4 separate regions of the Homo sapiens genome follow, and regions 2, 3 and 4 are each reported to be linked to region 1. Evidence: microRNA targets listed by miRTarBase, many of them from high-throughput screens and not tested one by one. Region 1 holds a microRNA gene; each other region holds the end of a gene's coding sequence. Distances are between the middles of the regions.
What was found. The annotated mature microRNA hsa-miR-590-5p reads GAGCUUAUUCAUAAAAGUGCAG and lies in region 1 at 2,812-2,833, shown strand. An mRNA with a match to its seed (bases 2 to 7 or 8) in the 3' UTR can be bound and repressed. Matches are read on the target gene's strand: a 7mer-m8 pairs with bases 2 to 8, a 7mer-A1 pairs with bases 2 to 7 and ends in A, and an 8mer does both.

Region 2: miRTarBase lists RECK as a target of hsa-miR-590-5p. Seed matches in the 3' UTR shown: 8mer at 3,747-3,754.
Region 3: miRTarBase lists ITGB8 as a target of hsa-miR-590-5p. Seed matches in the 3' UTR shown: 7mer-m8 at 3,286-3,292.
Region 4: miRTarBase lists PLEKHA2 as a target of hsa-miR-590-5p. Seed matches in the 3' UTR shown: 7mer-m8 at 2,523-2,529.

What each region holds. Positions count from the first base shown.
Region 1 is chr7:74,188,402-74,193,596 of GRCh38, forward strand. MIR590 (microRNA 590) reads left to right here and starts at 2,797; the gene lies at 2,797-2,893. It overlaps EIF4H (eukaryotic translation initiation factor 4H), which reads left to right. Exons shown (of 7, transcript NM_022170.2): 3 at 1,272-1,336; 4 at 1,421-1,517; 5 at 1,846-1,905.
Region 2 is chr9:36,122,742-36,127,936 of GRCh38, reverse strand. RECK (reversion inducing cysteine rich protein with kazal motifs) reads right to left here. Exons shown (of 21, transcript NM_021111.3): 21 at 3,482-5,113. The coding sequence ends at 4,892. Among named protein-coding and RNA genes, the nearest start is that of GLIPR2, 11 kb to the left of the region's middle.
Region 3 is chr7:20,409,238-20,414,432 of GRCh38, reverse strand. ITGB8 (integrin subunit beta 8) reads right to left here. Exons shown (of 14, transcript NM_002214.3): 13 at 4,655-4,818; 14 at 1-4,558. The coding sequence ends at 4,436. Among named protein-coding and RNA genes, the nearest start is that of ITGB8-AS1, 80 kb to the right of the region's middle.
Region 4 is chr8:38,969,333-38,974,527 of GRCh38, reverse strand. PLEKHA2 (pleckstrin homology domain containing A2) reads right to left here. Exons shown (of 12, transcript NM_021623.2): 12 at 616-5,107. The coding sequence ends at 4,745. It overlaps HTRA4 (HtrA serine peptidase 4), which reads right to left and starts at 300. Exons shown (of 9, transcript NM_153692.4): 1 at 1-300. The coding sequence starts at 264. RefSeq lists a silencer at 1-133.

The sequences.
Region 1 (5,195 bases):
CTGTGTAAGTGCACGATGCTAGGACCCAGGATGTTTGGCCCGCATAATCCACCCAAAAGCACATCTGTGACAAGTATGGGGTAACTTGGGGCGGGGAGCTGTGCCAGCAGTCGAGAAGGCCTTGCTGACCTGGGTGGTTTTGTGTGTCGGTGGCACTCTTACTCTTTTTGACTTCAGAATCTGAAGCCACATGTAGTGTGTAATCAAACAGTGAAAACAAATATATCAGTTACACTTGTGAAGTAAGCTCCAGGAAGCATTAGGAACTAAACTTTGGGTTGGAGTGTGTGGGTGAGCCTAGCCTTTGGGCTGGGTCAGTCGCTGCAGGCTTTGGAGTTTGGCTCATGAAGGACCATCTTCATTTGAGCAGCTCTAGAAGATGAGATTGGGTGTCTGTTGCTTCTGTGAAGTTGGGGGTAGTTTTCTCCATTATTCTCAACATTGAATCCACTTAGGGAGGAAACCTGGGGGGACATCCCTCCAGCCAAGGCAGTATGTTCTTAACACACAGTTGGTAAACAGGGAAAGTTTGGACTCAGGCCTTTAGAGCACTTGCGGTCTAGTGGGCTTCAAAGATGAAGTGTGATTATTAAGTTATTATACACAGGGCAAGGACGCTGGGGGAGAGGGGATGCAGGGTGTAGTGCCAGCATCTGGGGAGTAATGAACTAGATTTAGACTCCAGACAGCAAGGAAGGGGCAATGTCAGACCCCTGGCATCAGGGACACAGGTTGTCAGTAACAGGTACTTGGACCCAGGCTGCCTGTCTTTTAATTAACATTCAGAGAAGAATGCCCTGATTGCCAAGGATATATTTTCAGCTTTGTGAAGCAAATTTTATGTCAGTTACCTGAGTAGTAAGTTAAATCGGCACTTTAAGCCTCTTTCTTCAGAGCATTTTAGGTACCAAGTTTGAAATCTACGAAATCTAATCCTCACTTAGATTAAATAGTCATTCAGAAGTCAGAAGAGCTCTGCAGATGGCCTGAGAAAGGTTTGAATATTATGGTTAAAACATTCAAGAAGAAAGCTTTCTAGAAACGCAGCTGCTATTTCAGTGCATGTTCAGTTAGCATTTTCTGACTGATAAAATAGAATTGAGAGGGAGGAATGCCAGTCAGGGTTCTATCTATTGAAAGGCTCTCCTAGTCTGCCATCATCTAGACAACAGAATGGTAGTTGTGACGTGGAGAAGTAGTATGAATAGGATCTTCCCACATCTTTAACCCAGAATTACTTGAGGAAATCGGGGTCTTCTTTTCTTTTCCAGGATTCTGCTATGTAGAATTCGATGAAGTGGATTCCCTTAAGGAAGCCTTGACATACGATGGTGCAGTAAGTATCCTCGGGTTTTCTCTGTCATAGCAGTTGAGATTGTTTTCTTTGCCAATACTTACACTATTTTCCCTTTATCATTAGCTGTTGGGCGATCGGTCACTTCGTGTGGACATTGCAGAAGGCAGAAAACAAGATAAAGGTGGCTTTGGATTCAGAAAAGGTGGACCAGATGACAGAGGTGATTGGTTCTTCTAAAGCTGAACATCATAAAGATTTGCAGTATGCCTACCAATTCCAACTCGTGAACGTTCCTAGTAGAACTCGATTATCTCATAGGTGTGATAGGTTCTCGTGAGCTCTTAAAAGTTTGCGTAAAATCCTAGAAAGAATGGCTGATGCTTCTGCAAGCCTGGCGTTTTTTGTTTTCTGTTGGAAGCAAAAGCTCTTAAAATGATTTCATTGAACCTTCCATCACTTGAGTTGTATGTCTTCCAAATGAATTTTTCCATGTTTGCGCAGCAAGGTAATGACACGACCTCAACTTTATCTTTTTTGTGTATCCTCAGGAATGGGTAGCTCTCGAGAATCTAGAGGTGGATGGGATTCCCGGGATGACTTCAATTCTGGTATCAGTATTTAAAGTATCACCACTTAATTTTTCCTAGGAGCCTTGCTGCTGTTCTCTGTTTCTTACGAGTAGCCCGCCTGGCCGGACTACTTATTTAGTTCCTTTAACAAATACAACTCTCCTGCAGGGTGCCCAGGCATGCAAGTAAGCCTCTGTTAGAGCCTGTGGGGGCAGGACTTGAGCCCCATGCACCTTGTGTGGTCACCTTTGTTAGCCTGCAGCTCCTTGGATGTGTACGGGCCTGGGTCCTTGAGCTCGCTCAGCAGTCTTTCTCAGACTCTAGCCCAGGGAAACTCCTCTGTGGTTTTGTGTATGGCACCAAGAGAAGTACTGTTCCTTCTGGAAAACATAGGATAGAGGTTTGGGTTCTTACATGGTGAAAGGTAGTCCTGATGGCCCTTTTTTTTCTTGGAGGATTGTGGGGAGGTCCAGTCCCTTGATGGTGGACCTGATGCACTTCGCCGTTCTCTTTCTTAGCCAACCCAGGCAGAGCAGCTGGTGGTATAGCACAAAGCATCAGTCCACACGCCAGGCCTCTGCCCTGCAGGGTGATTTTAAGCATTTTTATCATCTTTACTTTCTGTTTTTAAATTACAAAAGTATAATTTTTTATATATGCACATGATAAAAACTTCAGTTGTAACCCAGAAAGGTAGGAAGAGAAAAACAAATTTGTTTTCTTTCCCGCAAACTTGGGATGTGCTGTCAATGCTGTGCTGTATAGAACGTCAGCACCCTCCCCCCATCAAAACAAAACCGGTGTAAAGTAGTGGGTGAGTATGGGAGGGACTGGTGCACGCTGTCTTGTGAGTCTGAGATTTTTAAAAACTCAGCTTTGGCTGAACAGGTGACGACTACCTGTTGAATAATATAGTTCTTAAAAGTCCTGTAGCCAGTCAGAAATGAGCTTATTCATAAAAGTGCAGTATGGTGAAGTCAATCTGTAATTTTATGTATAAGCTAGTCTCTGATTGAAACATGCAGCAGCTGTCTTCTTAGAGCCAACCAGCAGCTCAGGGAACGGCCTTTCCCCTGCCAGTTTGGTATTCGCAGGTGTTATAGAAGTTGCCCACATACTAACGTCTTTCTACCCTTGGCTTAGCTTGGCCACTGGCGCTCAAGCAGAGACACAGTGAACACGGCCATGGCCTGGCCGCCACCAGTTCTGGTGGGAACTGCAGTGTTTTGGTGACATCTCAAACCCTATGTGGGCTCACTCGATGGAGTAATGGCTAATTTGATACTTTATACGTTATTTGCGAGAGTAGATCTTTTTTACTTTTTAATAGGATGGTGCTATTTTTTTTAATGATACCTGCTCATGTAAAAAACAAAATAGAGCAACAGAAAAGTACCAAGAAAGCAAAAACATTTCATCATCAGAAATAGCCAGTGTTAAACTAAGCTTTGTAAAGAAAACTCTGAAGATTCTCATGAATAGTTTGCTTCCTAGAAACCCACCAACAGATTTTTTGTTGTTGTTTTTTTTGAGACGGAGTCTTGCTCTGTTGCCCAGGCTGGAGTGCAGTGGTGCGATCTCGGCTCACTGCAAGCTCTGCCTCCTGGGTTCATGCCATTCTCCTGCCTCAGCCTCCCAAGTAGCTGGGACTACAGGCACCCACCACCACGCCCGGCTAATTTTTTGTATTTTTAGCAGAGACGGGGTTTCATCATGTTAGCCAGGATGGTCTCGATCTCCTGACCTCGTGATCCACCTGCCTCGGCCTCCCAAAGTGCTGGGATTACAGGCATGAGCCACCGCGCCCGGCCCCCACCAACAGATTTGATGAGAGATCCTTGTTCATCTGCTTCACCAGCGTGGTGTGAGCTATTTGTTTCACGCTAGACATTGGTGGTCGAAATCATTTAATCTCATAGTAAAGGGTGTAAATTTACTTTGTACTCACGTGGAAAGGTACACTTCACAGTTTAGTTTGGGGGAAACGTGAAGTTAAATGTTTTAATACTAACTAGGCTTGTTCACTGAACTGTGTAATGTGGGTAAAATACTTTGTAAAGGACCTTATACTCGACTGTATGCCTCCCAGTGTATTTCCCCTAAAGCAGTGCTCTTATTGGTCTAAATCTGTTCAGACTTGCTTTCATTACTTGGTTTGTTAAAATTTATTATTTAACTCAGTCTCTGAACTGGGTGTGAGATCCCTTGGTTTCCAAAACCCTTGCCACCTTTAAAGAATAGAAATCGGCCCCCACCACAGGTGATGCAGTCAGCGCTTATCATTGGAGGTGGTTCTGTGGAGTTGCTAGAACACTGAATGAGCCCGTGCGGTGCTGCTCCTGTGTGCTACAGATCACAACATTTTCGTCAGCTGATCATACCTAACATTGCTTTATGTGACTTTTTTTTTTTTCTTTTTTTTTTTTTTGAGACAGAGGCTCACTCTGTTGCCCAGGCTGGAGTGCAGTGGCATGATTTCGGTTCACTGCAATCTCCGCCTCCAGGGTTCAAGCGATTCTCCTGCCTCAGCCTCCCAAGTAGCTGGGATTACAGGCGCACACCACCACACCCAGCTAATTTTTATATTTTTAGTAGAGACGGGGTCTCTCCGTGTTGGTCAGGCTGGTCTCGAACTCCCAGCCTCAGGTGATCTGCCCACCTCTGCCTCCCAGAGTGCTGGGATTACAGGCGTGAGCCACCACACCCAGCCTATGTGACCTTGATTTTAAAGACGCCTCATTTAATGTTAGTGTTGATTCATTTAATAGTGTTAACATTGAACTCAGGGCCAGCTGTAGTAAGTAGTCTGTGGTGCCATCATTTCAGCCTGTTAGAAAGCTCATCCCACACCGGTTTTGTCTGTAAGACACCTGACAGCCAGCCTGCACTTAAGAACAGCAGACAGCACTTCACACTGCACCTGGGGCCACTTCAGACAGCGATGTCACCAGAAAAAGCCCAAAGGGCAAAACACCCGACACTCATCGTGAAAAGACTTGACAGCTAATAACTGAAACAGGCAGAGCATTATCGTTTTCTGCCTCAGCTGGGATCGTCGCATCTGTGCAGGTCCAGGACTGACTGGAGAAATGCTGCTGGTATCTAGCTTGGGATTACACATGAATTTTAGCGACTGGGTGGATTTGCAAATATGGGATCTGTGGATAATGAGGATGACTGTATAGTGCATACTGCGGGCTCTGGGGGTTCTTCTCAAAGACAAGCTCCCTGAAAGCTTGGAGCCTTGGCACCACTCTCGCAGAGAGTAGCAGTGGCACCCCCTGAGTGCGCAACCAACAGCAGCAAGCTCATTTGTTTAATTATGGTTT
Region 2 (5,195 bases), not on the chromosome of region 1:
ACTGGGTTCCCAGTGGGAGCTGTGAGAGGAGACCCAAGGGAGAGAAGCAATGGCTTCTCCGTTAGGCTTAGGGGTTAGAGGTGCTAACAGCTCCACTTTGAGGCCTGGCGTGTTGTACTATGCCTTGTGGTTTCCCTACATCCTGCCCACACCTTTATAAATAGCCCCTTTATTAAACTTTCCTCCAATTAATCCTAATTTGGGTGGACCATTCGTTTTCCTGCTAGGACCCTGACCAACATAAATGGTTAGCCTTCTTCTTCTTCTTTTTTTTTTTTTTTTTTTTGGATGAGACAGGGTCTCACTCAGTTGCCCAGGCGGGAGTGCAGTGGCATGATCTTGGCTCACTGCAGCCTCAACCACCCTGGCTCAAACCATTCTCCCACCTCGGCCTCCCAAGTAGCTAGGACCACAGGGACATGCCACCATGCCTTTGTATTTTTTGTAGAGATGGGGTTTCGCCATGGTGCCTAGGCTTGTCTCGAACCCCTGAGCTCAAGTGATCTGCCTGCCTCAGCCTCCCAAAGTGCTGGGATTACAGGCATGAGCCATCGCGCCCTGCCTAAGTGGTTACACTTCTGTTTGGCAAAGCAACTGGTTGCATTTGCAGTAGAGTTCAGTGGGAGATTGGTCTGGAGAAGACAGAGGAGGTGGTCTTTAGGAAAAGACCCACCCCCTGATTACCTGGTGGGTGTTGGCCAAGATAGGGCTTCCACCTATGAACCTTTAGGCAAGGATGTACCGCCCAGTAGACAACATCCCAAATATGAAACCGTTTCCCTCAATTTCCCCGCACAGGGCAGTGAGGTAACCACCTCCTCCCCATTGCAGACAGAGGAGGTACCTTGCCCTGATTACAGAGAGAGATAGATATGTACAGAGAAGGCTCTAGAAGGATTCTGCACTTATTTGTAGAGGCAGGGAGAGGAAGGTATGGGATTTTTTTTCCTTTATTTATATTTCCAAGTACTTGGGGGAAGGTGCACACGTAACTTTTACAAGGAAAAAACAATACAGTGAACTTCATTTTGGAATAATGGAAAAGTGGGTGGAGCCAGGGGACAGAGTGTTCACCCTGTGAGGCTTCCTTCCCTACCCTCTCCACCATCAGCCTAATGCCCTGAGGCTGGGCTCTAGAATGAAACTCAACCTTAGACTTGGCATTTGCTCTCTGTGTGAGGCGTTTTGCTTTGGGCCGGGAGACAACATGGTGAAAAGCACTCCCTAAACTGCCCTAGAAAGTGAGCTGGCGAACTGTGTCAGTTACTTTTTATGATTCCTGATGCTCCTTGAACCTGTTTGCTCAGACCCACCCAGGCTCACCTGGCCTTGGAACTGTTTCACTCTGCTCACCTTCTGGCATCTACCTTCATGGCAACCTCCTTTATGGCCAGTTCCATTTCTGAGAAGTACAAATCCTGCCTGGCTGCCTTGTGCCAGGGAAAGCCTGGACCTGGCCTCTGGCCGTGGCTTCACCCTGACTCCCTGTGTAACCACAGCTTGGTCCCTGTACTCTTGGTTTCTCTCTGTGTGCACCGTGGAAATCTGCCCTCCAGCCCCAAGATTGCTGGACTGCTGGAAGGACTGGCTCATCCCTGGGAATGACGCCTCTGCCTTCACTTTCTCTCAGCTTGCAAAGTGCACAACTCAAGCCTCTTCTGCAGCTGGGAGGCAGGGAAGGAAAGGCCCCTGCAGCGGGGCCTCCTGTCCCTCTGAGAATTAGAGCACCCTCTGTGGGAGTGTGTGGGCCTGACTCCCATCAGCCCAAGGCTGAAAGAGAAGCATTGAATCAAACGAAGGAAAGTGCAGTTTCTTCAGTGACGATCAGTGTTCCTGGTGGGTTTAAGTTTCCTCCCACAGTGGAGCTGAAAGAGACCCTGGCTGAACTCTAAGGGTGGGGACCAGGCCTAAGGGAACCCTGGCCCCCAGCCTGCTCAGTTATTATTTCCTCAGGAGAGTCCAGGGTGCTCACAGGACAGAGGGAAGCACTGCCTAGTAACAAGATCAGTGGATGGTCTTGAAGGTCTCGTGGCACTGAAGTTTGGGGCACACAATCCTTTGCAGGCTAGAGCTATCCAGGCTGGTCAGTGTAGCTGGAAGGGCAAGGGCAGAGGCTTAGGATGCCACTGTGGCCTGGCATTCAAGCTGGGCACATCGGATCTGCCTTATACTTCCCCACACCACGCCCCTCACAACATGTCAGCCCTGCTGTTCTACCCCTGGAACGGACCTGGACTCTGTCGTTTCTGCACCTTTGCTCAAGCTGTACCTCCTACTTAGAATGCCTTTCTCAAAGCCATCTGGCAAAGTCTCCTGGTTTCTTCCAGGCCTGGTGCAAACCAACCCTCTTTTCGAGGGCTTGCGTCTTCCCCCTTGTTAGATGCTCCCTCCCCCAACTCACACCTCCCATGGCAGGTTGCCTGTACCATTTGATCACCTTCTCCAACCTGTCCTATTAAACGCCTTGCATTTTCTTTGAGATGGGTTCTTGCTATGTTGACCAGGCTGGAAACATCTACTTCTCTAATAAAAAATCTTGTCAGTCCTGGCTATTGTCCTAGCCTGATGAGAAAAGATGTCTATGGTAGACAGTGTTATTCAAAATACTTACTGTCCCTCCCCCAACACACACAAAACACCGTGGGAGGACTGTATGTCCCCACCCTTTGAACTCTGGAGTGGCCATGTGACTTGCTTTGGTTAGTAAAACGTAGAAAGAAATGACAGCATCACTTCCAAGCAGAGAATTCAGGGCCAGCTTGTGGTCCTCTATGTCTCTTTTCTGCCCTTTGTGAGGACGCTGGAATGGGTCTGGAGTGAAGATAGTATCAGGTGTGGCAGCTGACCCACAATGGACATGTGAAGGGAACAAAATAGAAGCCTCTGTTGTAAGCCACTGAAGTTTTGGGGACTTAGCCTAAGCTGATTGGTACCACTTCTCTGGTCCCATCAGCAGCCCTCCATCTCCATATTCCCATGGTCTCCCTGCCCCAGGTGTACCCTGGAACTGGAACATCAGGACCAGCACAGTGGGGAGAACTGCCTAGTATGCAGTCTTGGAAGGCCTGAAGCTCTCTCTGTCCTTAAGGCTGAAAGCTGGGGTCTTTGTATTTGACTCTCTGTCACTGCCTGCCCTCTGGTCTGACCAACTGTGTCCTAGCTGGCCTGTTCTCCCAGGGCCCTTGGCTTGGGATAATAGCACTCCATGACTTCTTTTTTTTTTTTTTGAGACAGGGTCTCACTCTGTCTCAGGTATGAGACAGGTTGGGGTACAGTGGTGTGATCTCAGCTCACTGTAACCTCCACCTCCCAGGTTCAAGCGATTCTCCAGCCTCAGCCTCCCAAGTAGATGGGACCACAGACATGTGCCACCATACCCGGCTAATTTCCATGACTTCTTATCCCCGAGCAAAGGACACAGCTCACCTAAGGGTGATCAGTGGTTTCCTTTTTGAATGTCAACATTGCTTAGAAGCATGCATGATCATATAAAAATTATTTTTATTAAAATAGAAAAGCTTTCCAGTATATTGCATTAAAGACATTTATACAGAAAAAAGGCAATTGCAACAAGCATGCTACATCAGCACTGACATATTCTGAAAGCTTTAAGTGCCCATTTTTCAGCAACATTTTGGTATAATACGCATATCCCTATGTATTTCAGAGGGTACATATAATACTGAAAAAATACTTCATGTAAAATCTAAGTTCATGTGCATACACACAAGAAGTATTACATCAAATAGCTTATTTCAAACTGTGAAACACATTCAAAGTATTCAATTTCTTAGACAACATGCATACATTTTAATACTCAGCTTGACACTTTTAAATATATAAACCACAATTCTTTATACTTCTATATCAAAAAAGAAAGTCAGACAGAACACTTATCTACATTGTGCATATCACAAAAAGCAAATGTGTTTTCACGAATGGAAAGCACTGGGTTAACACACATGATTGTCATTTTACAAATATGGCTATTCACCTTCTTCATAATAAAATAGAAATATAATGTATTATTTACATGAACTACACATTATTTCACTTTTTGGCAATTATATAAGTAGCAGCAATTGGTTTAAAGATTGATGTTTAAAAACTCTACATTTAACTTGGATGAATACCGATGAATATATATCTGGTTAATATAAAAATTGCATAATGCAAGATGCTTTGATGCAATGTCACTTCTCCCTTTCACAAAAGTCACAGACACAAATCCGTGACCAGTGAGCCTGTTGCTTACAACATATAATTATATGAGTGTCATTTAATCAGCTTGCTTTTGCATAACACAGTAGTTGGGGTTCTGAATTAAATTTCTGTAATTTAATGCAAATTTGCCTGATAATTTACATAATTTACATAATTTCAAAGATGTTTTATCTATGTTTCATATTCTTTAATGGCAGTGGCTCTTCACTGGGACCCCTAGCTTCTAGCCAGAGTAGGTAATTATCTGTAAACAAAACAAATGCAACGGGAACCTTAAATACTTCAAAAAGAACTCTGAAATGAAGTTTGTGAACCTGATAGTACAGTGAATTATCTTTCTAAAAAGTGGTCATCTCATTTCCCAGCGATAAATTTGCTTTAGAGTGGGGGACCCTTATGGTGAGGAAATGTAAATCATATGGCAGTGGTCTACCAGGAAGAGACATTCTGTTTTCATTAGTATTTGGAACAACACATTTTAACATTTGTAAAAACAAAACAAAAATCCTACTAATATTGGCGGATTAAAAAAAAAAATACTGTGTGGCGAATAGAGGTGACATGTGCCTTTCCTTGGCCAATATTCAACTACAAACCAGCAGTCCTGAATGTCTTTTTCAAGGCAGGAGAGTGAGGTGGAGGAGCATTCTGCACTTTCCGTGGGCAGTCAGTTATATGTCCAGAGCAAGTGCAAGGCAAGGCCCAAGCTGAGGGGAAGGAGGAGGGAGTGGCAAGAAGGCCTGGCCCTGACACCGGCCGATGGCACACTGCTGGAGACCTGTACCTGGGAAATGATGAGGGCAGAGAGAGGGACATGGGACGCCAAAGTCGGGCTGTCAGAGTTGATAAGGGACTCAATCTTCTCTGCTTCTTTATTGCAGGCTTCAATCTGTGAGGAGAAACAAGGTTCCCTTAATATAAAACCACAGAACGTTTTCAACATCAAGCCAGACAAATTCCACGTATATCCT
Region 3 (5,195 bases), 54 Mb from region 1:
AATTTGTTAATGAAACGTAGACATACCTACCCATTCTTGTTAGTTAAGTTAGGGTTTGCTGAAATCATTCGCACTCACGTAAAGTATAAATGGGGACCTGAAAGAGCTTTTGTAAACTCAAGATATGCGGGATCTGAGCTGATAATCAGTTAGGCTCCATGTTGAGTTGTGCGTGACTCAGTTGTCCTTAAATTTCGCCTTCATATTTTGTCATAAATGGGCTCTCAAATCTTTATAAGAAAACAAAATTTGCCTAGATGCATAAACATTTAGGTAAAGTTGGATTAGTGTAATATTTATTCAAGCATAATTTTAAACACTGCATCTGAAGTGCCAACAGTTGCAAGAAATGTCACAATTTCAGAGATGTTAAATTGAAAAAGTGATGTCTTGGAATCAATGAAATATAAATATGGATATGTATAATCAGTTATACATAAAAATTTGCTATAGAGGAATTATAAAAGAAAAGGAAAATTATTTGAAAGAATGTTAGCTATATCTCAGTGGTCTGCATTGCATAAAATGGAGTTCTTGAGGTCAATATAAATAAGGATAGTTGTAAATTAAATATTGAGTCAACATAACAGAATGCAATCTGCACATGATTGAGCTCCCATGTAACTATATTTCACTTGATACTTTTATGAAAACATATATATTCCAAATCCTTCAAAATGAAAAGAAGCTCAAACAGTTGTGAAAATTTAGAATTCTTAGATTTTAATGGGTCTGTCTTTGTTCAGGGGCAAAGACTCAAATGAGCTTTAAGATCAATTAAAGATGTCTGGAAATGAAGAACTTCATTATACCATTAAATTCAGTTATTTTTCACTATTAGGCTTATTAAGCTTGAAGCTTTAGGAAATCTCTTGGGAAGAGTGAGTGGAAAAAACAGGAGTAAGAAAAGGAAGAAAAAGCCTTTGAGTCTAATCTACTCTACCAGGTTCCAGGAAGAATATAATTCTACAGAGAAAATTCTTCATAATCTATCATAATATATTTCAGTGTCTGATGGCTGACTCTTGTCTTGCATAAAGATATCTTCAGTGGATATTAAGTAAATATTAAAAATATATTTCAGATTCATTCTTTGAAGGATTGCATCTCATGCATCCACAAATTTTAATGTTGAGTTTTGGAAAATTGCCTCCAGAGATATCTACTGTGTTTAATCTTAGATTTTTTTTTTATTTTAATAAACCAAAGATAAACTGAACATTTAAGACATAATCAGATTTTTAGTGAATTTTTAAGTCCTCCAGAAAAGTCTATGACTTAATAAATATTAGCAAGTTTCCAAAAATATAACAAATGTTTATAAATACGTGTGCACTGCAGTGCAATGGTGTCCCCAGAGAAATAAAATGCATAACAAAGCAAATGTTATGTTGTAGTGTATGTATGGCACATTTATAAATCATTACATACTTTAGGGCACAAAAATGCTGCAGTACTAAAAGTGTTGTTCAAGTTCTCAATTCTGTTAACAATTTAAAATTTCATTAATTGTGTTTAATATCAATGAATCTCAAAAGGCTCCTGTGGCCATATTAGTTGAAAATAGACTCTATTTGCATACATTATTTAACCTAAGAGTACCCTGTGTTCCCTTACCATTTAATTAATTCTAACTAGTCAAATATTAATTCTCATCTCACAAATCATTACACAGGAAGATATCAATTATTCAAGTAAAATACAAGCCCTACAATCTTTAAAAATTAGCTTTTTAAGTAAAAACAAAAAAGATAAGCACAAGACTTTGCAAGCATAACCACAATCATCGTCTAACACTGAGTTGCCTACAAGGAAGTTTGTCCCTTCCTATGGTAACAGCCTTGGTCCACTATAAAGTTAGTGCAAACAAGTGAGGGTATAAAAAAAATATAAACTCTGGATTTTTAAGGATTTCATTTTGTTATACTCTTTTTGGATAATTCATTCCATACGGAAATTTGTTTATTGTTCATAAATATCATAATGTTCATTTCAAAAATTGTCATCATCTTAATGGCTATCTTACACTTTTTTCTTTTGGAGGGTTGTCAGGCATCCATCCATTTTCCTTTTTAAGAAGAACGTTATGTGTATTAGGCTACTAAACCCAATTTTTACATTATTTTTAGTGATCAAAGGTTTCTTATACAAGTGACTCACAGTACTGAATTATGTCAATCTCTCATTTGAGGAAGGAAATGCAGTTCAAGTTAGCATTGAAAGTGCTTGGCTGTAGAGGACATCTAACAGAGCTGCTGTGTTTATTGGCTCCAGAACAACTTATTATAGGTTTTTCAGTTCTCTTTAGGGTAGAATATGAGATGGGGTTAGTCTTCATCAAAATGCAGTATCTAGTACTTTAACTCAAGTGCTGGAAGACAGCAAATCTTGGAAGTTTATTATAAAAAAAAAGATATTTCGGATAGATTCCTTTGTTGTCATGGGCAAAACTGTATATCCACACAGGACTGTTAGACTCCTAGCCAATAAAATCAGACTAAGTCCATAGGGATAAGGTAAGTGTAAATAAATTTCCATTGGGGAAGACAGGGCTCATGGCCCGTGTATCAAGGTCTCAAGCTGAGCACTGGAGAACTCCAGGGAACACTGTTCATACAGGCTATGGTGCGAAGGAATTCCCCTGTAGGTATGCCATACTTCAGTCTCTTAAGAAGCTGATTAGCATGAAAGACTGGAAGCTGATTATGGACAATTCAGTTTGAATTATTCCTTTCTATTTTGCTTTGAACTTTCCTCATACACTTAAGACATGAGTAAATCACATTGAAAAACATTTGCCAATTGAATATTTTAAAGATTCAAGAGGTAGCATGATATTGTGCAATGAACACTGGCCTGACAATGAGAAGATAAAAACTCCTTTCCAATGTGGCCACTTTATCACTTGAGTGTTTTCTGAGAAATCGTTTAAGTTTTCTGAGGCTCAGTTCCCTAACTCACTAAAAAGGAGAATTAGCAGCCTGGCATGGTGGCTCATGCCTGTAATCCCAACACTCTGGGAGGCCGAGGAGGGTAGATCACCTGAGGTCAGGAGTTTGAGATCAACCTGTCCAACATGGCAAAACCCCGTCTCTACTAAAAATACAAAAATTAGCTGGGCACGGTGGTGGATGCCTGTAATCCCAGCTACTCAGGAGGCTGAGGCAGGAGAACTGCTTGAACCCGGGAGGCAGAGGTTGCAGTGAACCCTAATTGCGCCATTGCACTTCAGCCTGGGTGACAAGAGTGAAACTCCGTCTCAAAAAAAAAAAAAAAAAAAAAAAAAGCTTATTTCTAAGATATCATCTATTCTCCAATTTTGTACTTTTATGAATTCTGGCAAGAAGGGTTGGAGTGATTCTGGGAAAGAACATCCTTAGGCTGCCTTGAAGGGAGAAGATAATATAGCTTTTCATTTAAAAAATGCTGATATCTACTTGCAATCAAAATCTAAGAAAACATTCAAAATGTGGTACTTTGCTTGAGGCAGAATTTCTAACTATCTTGTGAATTAATGATAAGATAAATGAAATGGCCAAACAATCCCTTCAGTTTACCAGGTAAGAGGATACAAAACTCCACACTTGTGCACAATGAAGCTATTCAGGTTTTGATGATACTTTACAGTGTCCCCTATTAACATTCAGCTTTTAAAACTAGTATTCTGATAAAGTGACATTGTATTATTAGTTTTTTATGGCAGTAGTAACTTAGCACTTAATTAATCCAGTCATCTGTGACATACATAAACTTATCCTGTAAAAAAGAAAACAAAACATAAAGGCAAAGAGGAGAGAATGCTGGAATTAGTATCCATCTTGCAAAAATAAGCAAACCATAAACACACATGCATAAAACTACACACTTTAAAAAGCAATAATCTTTTAAGATTAAGGTTGTATCTGTTCACCTCTTGAAAGAGTGAAACACGAATCATTTATTCATCTAGCTGTTCTTGTCTATTCAACCACCAACTGTTGAAGTGTTTGGCAACCTTAGAATATACTTGCCAGATTATTTTTTTCCTCACATGTCCAGTGCAGGGATTACTGTACCCTTGTAGTGACACAATGCTAAACTCTCTCACAGCATTGTTCTCTCTGGGAAGCGTAGGGATAACAGGTACCTGTAAAGTGTAATCAGTGCTCTTCAGAGGATCTACATTCTATGCTGATCTAAATAAGTTATATATTACAGTAAAGTGCTACAACGACACTAGTCTCAAACAGTAGTAAGACACATTTTTCTCTGAAAAAGTCAGCAGCTATGTGAGTCACATCATGATGAGGATACTTGTCAGTCTTCGTTCGAGTGTACAACCAGCAACTGGCATGACCGTGAGCAATTTGTCTCCTCCTGTGACTTTTAAAATTATAATCTTTAGGAGCAATTATTAACAATTCCAGTTTCCCATTAAGTGTTTAAAAATCTTTTTTTAGAAGTTGCACCTGAAAGTTTCATGAGCATTTAATTTGCTGATATCCATTTTTATTTCTTCAGGCTTCTCACGTCGGTAGGTGACTGCTCTTGTGCAAACACTTTGCAGAATCAACTTATCCTTAATAGAGAAGAAATATTATTATTAACTAAGGGCCTAAATATTGTAACTAGGCAATAACATACTGTTAGCAGTTCTTTTTTAGAATTCACTGACCTTTTTTGAGGCTGACACTCTGTAATCTGATGAGGACTTAATTTTATTACTATTCCATTGTAGTATCACCTGTCTAATGATCAGGACTTTAAGCAACCCAATCAAGAATGTAACTATGAAAATGATGAAAAATATTCTCAAGTAGCTTGGGCTGGAGAAACATTCTGTAATGAAGCAAACAAATAAATGGATTAAAAATTGGAATAAGTAAATCAAAGAGTCTATCAAGTAAATAATGTTCACACTTCAATTAATAGTGCCAAAGATATTTGCAAATCTCCATTTTCAAATCGGGATTGAAATTACCTTTGATTCAAAACAAAAAGCTCTCTAATTTTTCTTGCGCGTTTACTATGAAAATATTTTCAATAGAAAACCCTCCTTTGGGAAATAGCCATGATTAAGGTATTCAATCACATTATTCCATTGCAGCTTGATTCTTTAATTGTATTAACTGGAATATGTCCATGTCCCATAACCAAGCATAATTTGATCCAAGACAGAAAGAGGACTAGTTTTTGTGGTACGTACTGTTGATCAC
Region 4 (5,195 bases), not on the chromosome of region 1:
GCACGGTTGGCCCTGCGCCCCGCCGCAGACTTCACGCTCGGCCGCGGGGCAGACGCGGCAACAGCGGCACAGGTCGAACACCGGCGTGGTCCCCAGCGCGCAGGTGGGCAGCGCGGGGCAGCGCGTGGGCTGGCAGACCGCGGGGCAGGAGGGCTGGGTATGTAGCTTTTCAGCCCCGGCCCAGAGGACGGGCACCAGGAGCAGCAGCAGCCCCGGCAGGAGGCATCGTCCCAGCCCCGCGGTCCGCAGCTGAGGTCTAATCATCCTGTTCCTTCCTCGCTTCCACTCTTCAGTGACTTTACTCTGGACCTGCAAACCCTCCTAAATGAGAGACACTTTCTCCCGGCCACGGCGCCGCCTCCGCCGGCCCCCAAACTTTAAGGGGCAGAGCCTGGCATACCTCTGCATATACACACCCGTACATCCCCTACCACCCGCCCCCGTCGGCGCCCCGGAGCCAGGTTCTCCCCCAGGCAATGAGGGGAAGGTCTCTAGCCCTACCCGGAGCAGGAACCTACCTCCTGAAATCCCTAAAACCGACAATGAGGGCAGACTGATAAGAAAGCTCACCCACCCATGGTCAGAAGGTCAGTATTAGGAAAACACATGACCATATTTCAGTATTTCACATGGTTTTATTACAAAACAAGCCACAAAACAGTTTTAGAAAATTTTTGCTACATACCAATTAGGAGATCACATAAAATGAGAAGCGTAACAGTTTCCATGCACTCAGCCTAGAGCTTACAGCGAGTGCATTTCACAGCTGAAACATCACTGCTTTAAAACACAGAATCATGCTACCCCTTCATAAGCAGAGGGGGAGGAGGTCAAACAGTATGTTTTTGCCAAACGTTTGCTTTATCTGAACTCTATCTAGTATGAAGGACTGGCTGCCGCAGGCAATAACACAGAGAGGAAAAGGAACAAAGGAAGAAAAGGGTGCTGGCAGACAAGATTTAACAAACCTGTCCACTTCCGACATTTTGAAAGTTTATAAACAAAGCTCACTTGGGGACACTCAATTTCCAAAATGCTGTGACCTCCACATGTTATCTAATTTATACTGAAAACAAACCTACTAAACTCCACTCCTCAACTACTGAACCTGCTATTTATTCATGGGGTCTTTTTAGCCCATATAAGAGTATATTTATATTCAGAAATATAAAAGAAAAAAAATTTGCTTCAAGTAGACTAAGAAGCTGGACCTTAAAACTACTTTCTTTCTCGTGGGAGCTGAGTATTCAACTCAGAAATAGATGTATAACTCCAATATTCTGACCTGACATCAATCTCCATAATGTATACCTCAATACCCTTATGATGTCTCACTTAACACTAAAGGCCAAATTATTTTTACCAACCATCAGCTGACATTGAGTAAGCAAGTCTTTTGAAGATTTCAAAAGTAATAGATGGTGGCCAGGCGTGGTGGCTCACACCTATAATCTGAGTACTTTGGGAGGCTGTGAGGCAGGAAGATCACTTGAGCCCAGGAGGTCCAGGCTGCAGTGAGCCATGATCAGGCCACTGCACTCCAGCCTGGGTGACAGAGTGAAACACTGTTTCTAAAAATAAAAATTAAAGAATAATGGATGGCATTATTCAGCCATGGGGAGGACCACCTGAAATACTGTTACACACAGTGGGTCAAGACCACTTCAAAAGCCTTATGAAAATAGCACAACTCAGGCAAGGCTTTTATTCCACAAAGAAAATGCAGTACATTTTTTAGTTCCTTTAAAAAAAAAAAAACTCAGATTTACTCCAGAGCCTATGCACTTAGTCACTAATCTATACTGCATCCCCAACCTATTTTTTCCATTTGGTTCAATTTTATACATTTAAAACTAACTGCTTTGGTCAAATACGTACCATCTTTGGTTCACATTAAAAGATTATGGTCCAAAACTGGCCAGAAGTTAAGAAATATCAACAAAATAGGAAGTTTGAAATACAATTTAGGAATGGAATGCTTTTAGAGCTTGTTTCATTGAAGATAATAATTTATCTCATATTGAACTACATTAACGATGTTCTGGCTAGGTGCAGTGGCTCACACCTGTAATCCCAACACTTTAGGAGGCCAAGGCAGGAGGATCACTTGGGCCAGGAGTTTGAGAGAGCCTGGGCAACATAGCCAGGCTCTGTAGATAAAAAAAAATTAAAAATTAGCCAGGCGTGGTAGCACAACCCTGTAGTCCTAGCTACTTGGGAAGCTAACATGGGAGGATTGCTTAAGCCCAGAGATTCAAAGTTATGATGAACTATGATCACACCACTGCACTCTAGCCTGGGTAAGAGAGTGAGACCCTGTCTTTTAAAAATTAAAAAAAAAAAATTAAAAACAAGCAATGCTCTAATGTGGAATTCCCAAGTGTTTGCCAATTGACAAGAAGATTTCCATTTGACAGTCTTAGTGTCCTCGTTTCCCTTTATCAGGATAATACCATATGGATTCTATGTATGTTTAATTTGTCACATTCTCAAAAGAGATCTTGCTGAATAAGAAACAAATCAGCTTATTATAATGGCCAATTAATTTAGCAATAGTAACCTATCAGATAATTTTTTTTTTGAGATGGAGTCTTGCTCTGTCGCCCAGGCTGGAGTGCAGTGGCGCGATCTTGGCTCACTGCAAGCTCCGCCTCCCAGGTTCACACCATTCTCCTGCCGCAGCCTCCCAAGTAGCTGGGACTACAGGCGCCTGCCACTGCGCCCGGCTAATTTTTTTTTCGTATTTTTAGTAGAGACGGGGTTTCACCGCGGTCTCGATCTCCTGACCTCGTGATCCGCTCGCCTCGGCCTCCCAAAGTGCTGGGATTACAGGCGTGAGCCACCTTGCCGGCCTTATCAGATAATTTATTTAAAAGAAAAGAGAGAGAGAGAGATAAATGGGTAGATTTTCACAATGTATACACCAAAAGAGGACATCTTTTCCGTGAGTCAGGGAATATTTAAAGAGATATCAAAAGTCCCTATTTTCATGAGTTCCACATCACATATTTTGTGCTTTCTTTGAATAGCCAAAAAATTTTCTTGGGGAAAATACGAGAGTAAAACCAGAGCTAAGGAGCTATAAGAATTTGGAATGGCTTCTTGAAATCATGCCGCTCCAAGTATGTCATAACCTCGATCACTCAAAAATACATAACTCCCAAACCAAGAATTTCTGAGGGCAAAAGCACACCAGCGTGTATAGGAAAGGCAGGGGAAGGGATGGAAGGGAGAGAAAGAGGGAACAATGTAGATTTCCTGTTTTATACCAGGAAAACTAGGCCAAACTCAATTTAAATGAATAGCTCCAAAGCAGTGCAGTCAGAAAAAGTTCTCAGTGTGACATAGACTTCAGGGAAACAACACGTCCTGAAAGAAACATGATTCCCCTCAAGCCACAAAGGATTTTCTCATCAAGTGTTTTCACCTCTGCATTAGATTTGGACACAAGAAGAGGAGAGCATTTACTCAGGTAAAAATAGTTCTCTTAGTCTCTTCCTCTAGTTACTAATTTTTAATTTAAAAATACAATTAACTGATCTAGCTGATAAAAGTCACAGACAGAAATAAGCTAAGTTCTCTCTTCCTTTAGGGAACGCTGGTGGCAATTCACCATATAAACTGGATGGAAGAATTCTCCCAGGGACACTGGAAATAGCATCTTCTTATCAAATGGAAGGAGGTACGCCCTAAAATTTGGGTGGGACACTCAATTTTCTTTTATATTTTGAGACGGAGTTTCACTCTTGTTGCCCTGACTGGAGTGCAATGGCGCGATCTTGGCTCACTGCAACCTCCACCTCCTGGGTTCAAGTGAATCTCCTGCCTCAGCCTCTGAGTAGCTGGGATTACAGGCCTGCACCACCACGCCCGGCTAATTTTGCATATTTTTTAGTAGAGGCGGGGTTTCACCATGTTGGCCAGGCTGATCTCGAACTCCTGACCTCAGGTGATCCACCCGCCTCAGCCTCCCAAACTACTGGCATTACAGGCGTGAGCCACCATGCCCGCTCAAAACTCAATTTTCTAGGCTCTTTTATCTGAGGAATCTCTGGCCAGCAACTCATAACATCTAAATCAATGTTTCTATGCCAAGCTTCTATTTCATTAAAAATATATATCTCTCTCTAGATTCTTTTTGTATCTCTTCATGTTAAGTGCATGGAAATTCATCCTATTACAGGGTCTGATCATGCAAGCACACAAGGCTTCATTCAAAGGGCAACAGCAAGAAGAAAGAGAAAGCAAGTTTGCAAGGGTACAAAACACATAGCGCTTAAAATTAGACTAATGCTGGCCCATTCCAAAAGAGCTGCGAGGCACCTGGACTGAAAACAAAATGAAAAAACTAAAACAAGGACAAGGAAATAAAACTTGGTCATTGGTGAAACTGGACTTCCAGCCCCCTCTGGAGAGGAGCTGCTAAAACAATCCCTCTCCAGGAAGACCTCAGAATAGTTAGAATAGAATAGGTAGCTTCCTCTCCACTGAGTATGCCTACAGTTCTAACCTAGTGACTTCCCCAAATTAAATACACTGCGTTGATATTACACACACACACACACACACACACACACACACACACAGCCCAGCTGGATGGGCCCCTCCCTCCCAAAGAGCATCCACAGGAATATGAGTGACATAAAGGCCTCTGACTACCCTCCAACAAGGTAGAGAAACTGAGTCACAGCCTCCTTCTCTCAAGTCCTCCCTCCCTCCCTCCCTCCCATGGCACTGTGCTCCATCACACATCAGAGGTCCGTATGTTTTCATCATCAAGGTTGAACATAAACGGCTTCTCCTTGGGGTGCTGGGGCTCCGATCTGTGCCTTATCCGGGAGCTGGGCAGCACCCCAGGAGCGCTGCCCTCCCCAGGACGAGGCGTGAACAAGGAGTCCTCTGAAGTGTCTCCAGGTGGAAGCAGCTTCTCCCCAGCCTGGGGGACAGGTGTCCAGGGCTGCCAGGAGGAGGCCACAGAGGGGGCTTTGCAGAGGGCTTTCTTTTCCTCCAAAGGTGGCCGCCCCCTGCACAGGATAGAGTTGGGCCCACTTGAAAGGCTGGAGCTTCCAGGTCGGGTCAAAGAAATGGATCTAGAAAAGGACGTTTCCTATAAAAATAAAAGGAAGAAAAAGACAAAAGAAAGTTAGGGCTTTTCAGACAATGTTTATCACAGAGTCCCAGAAAGAGTACCCAAC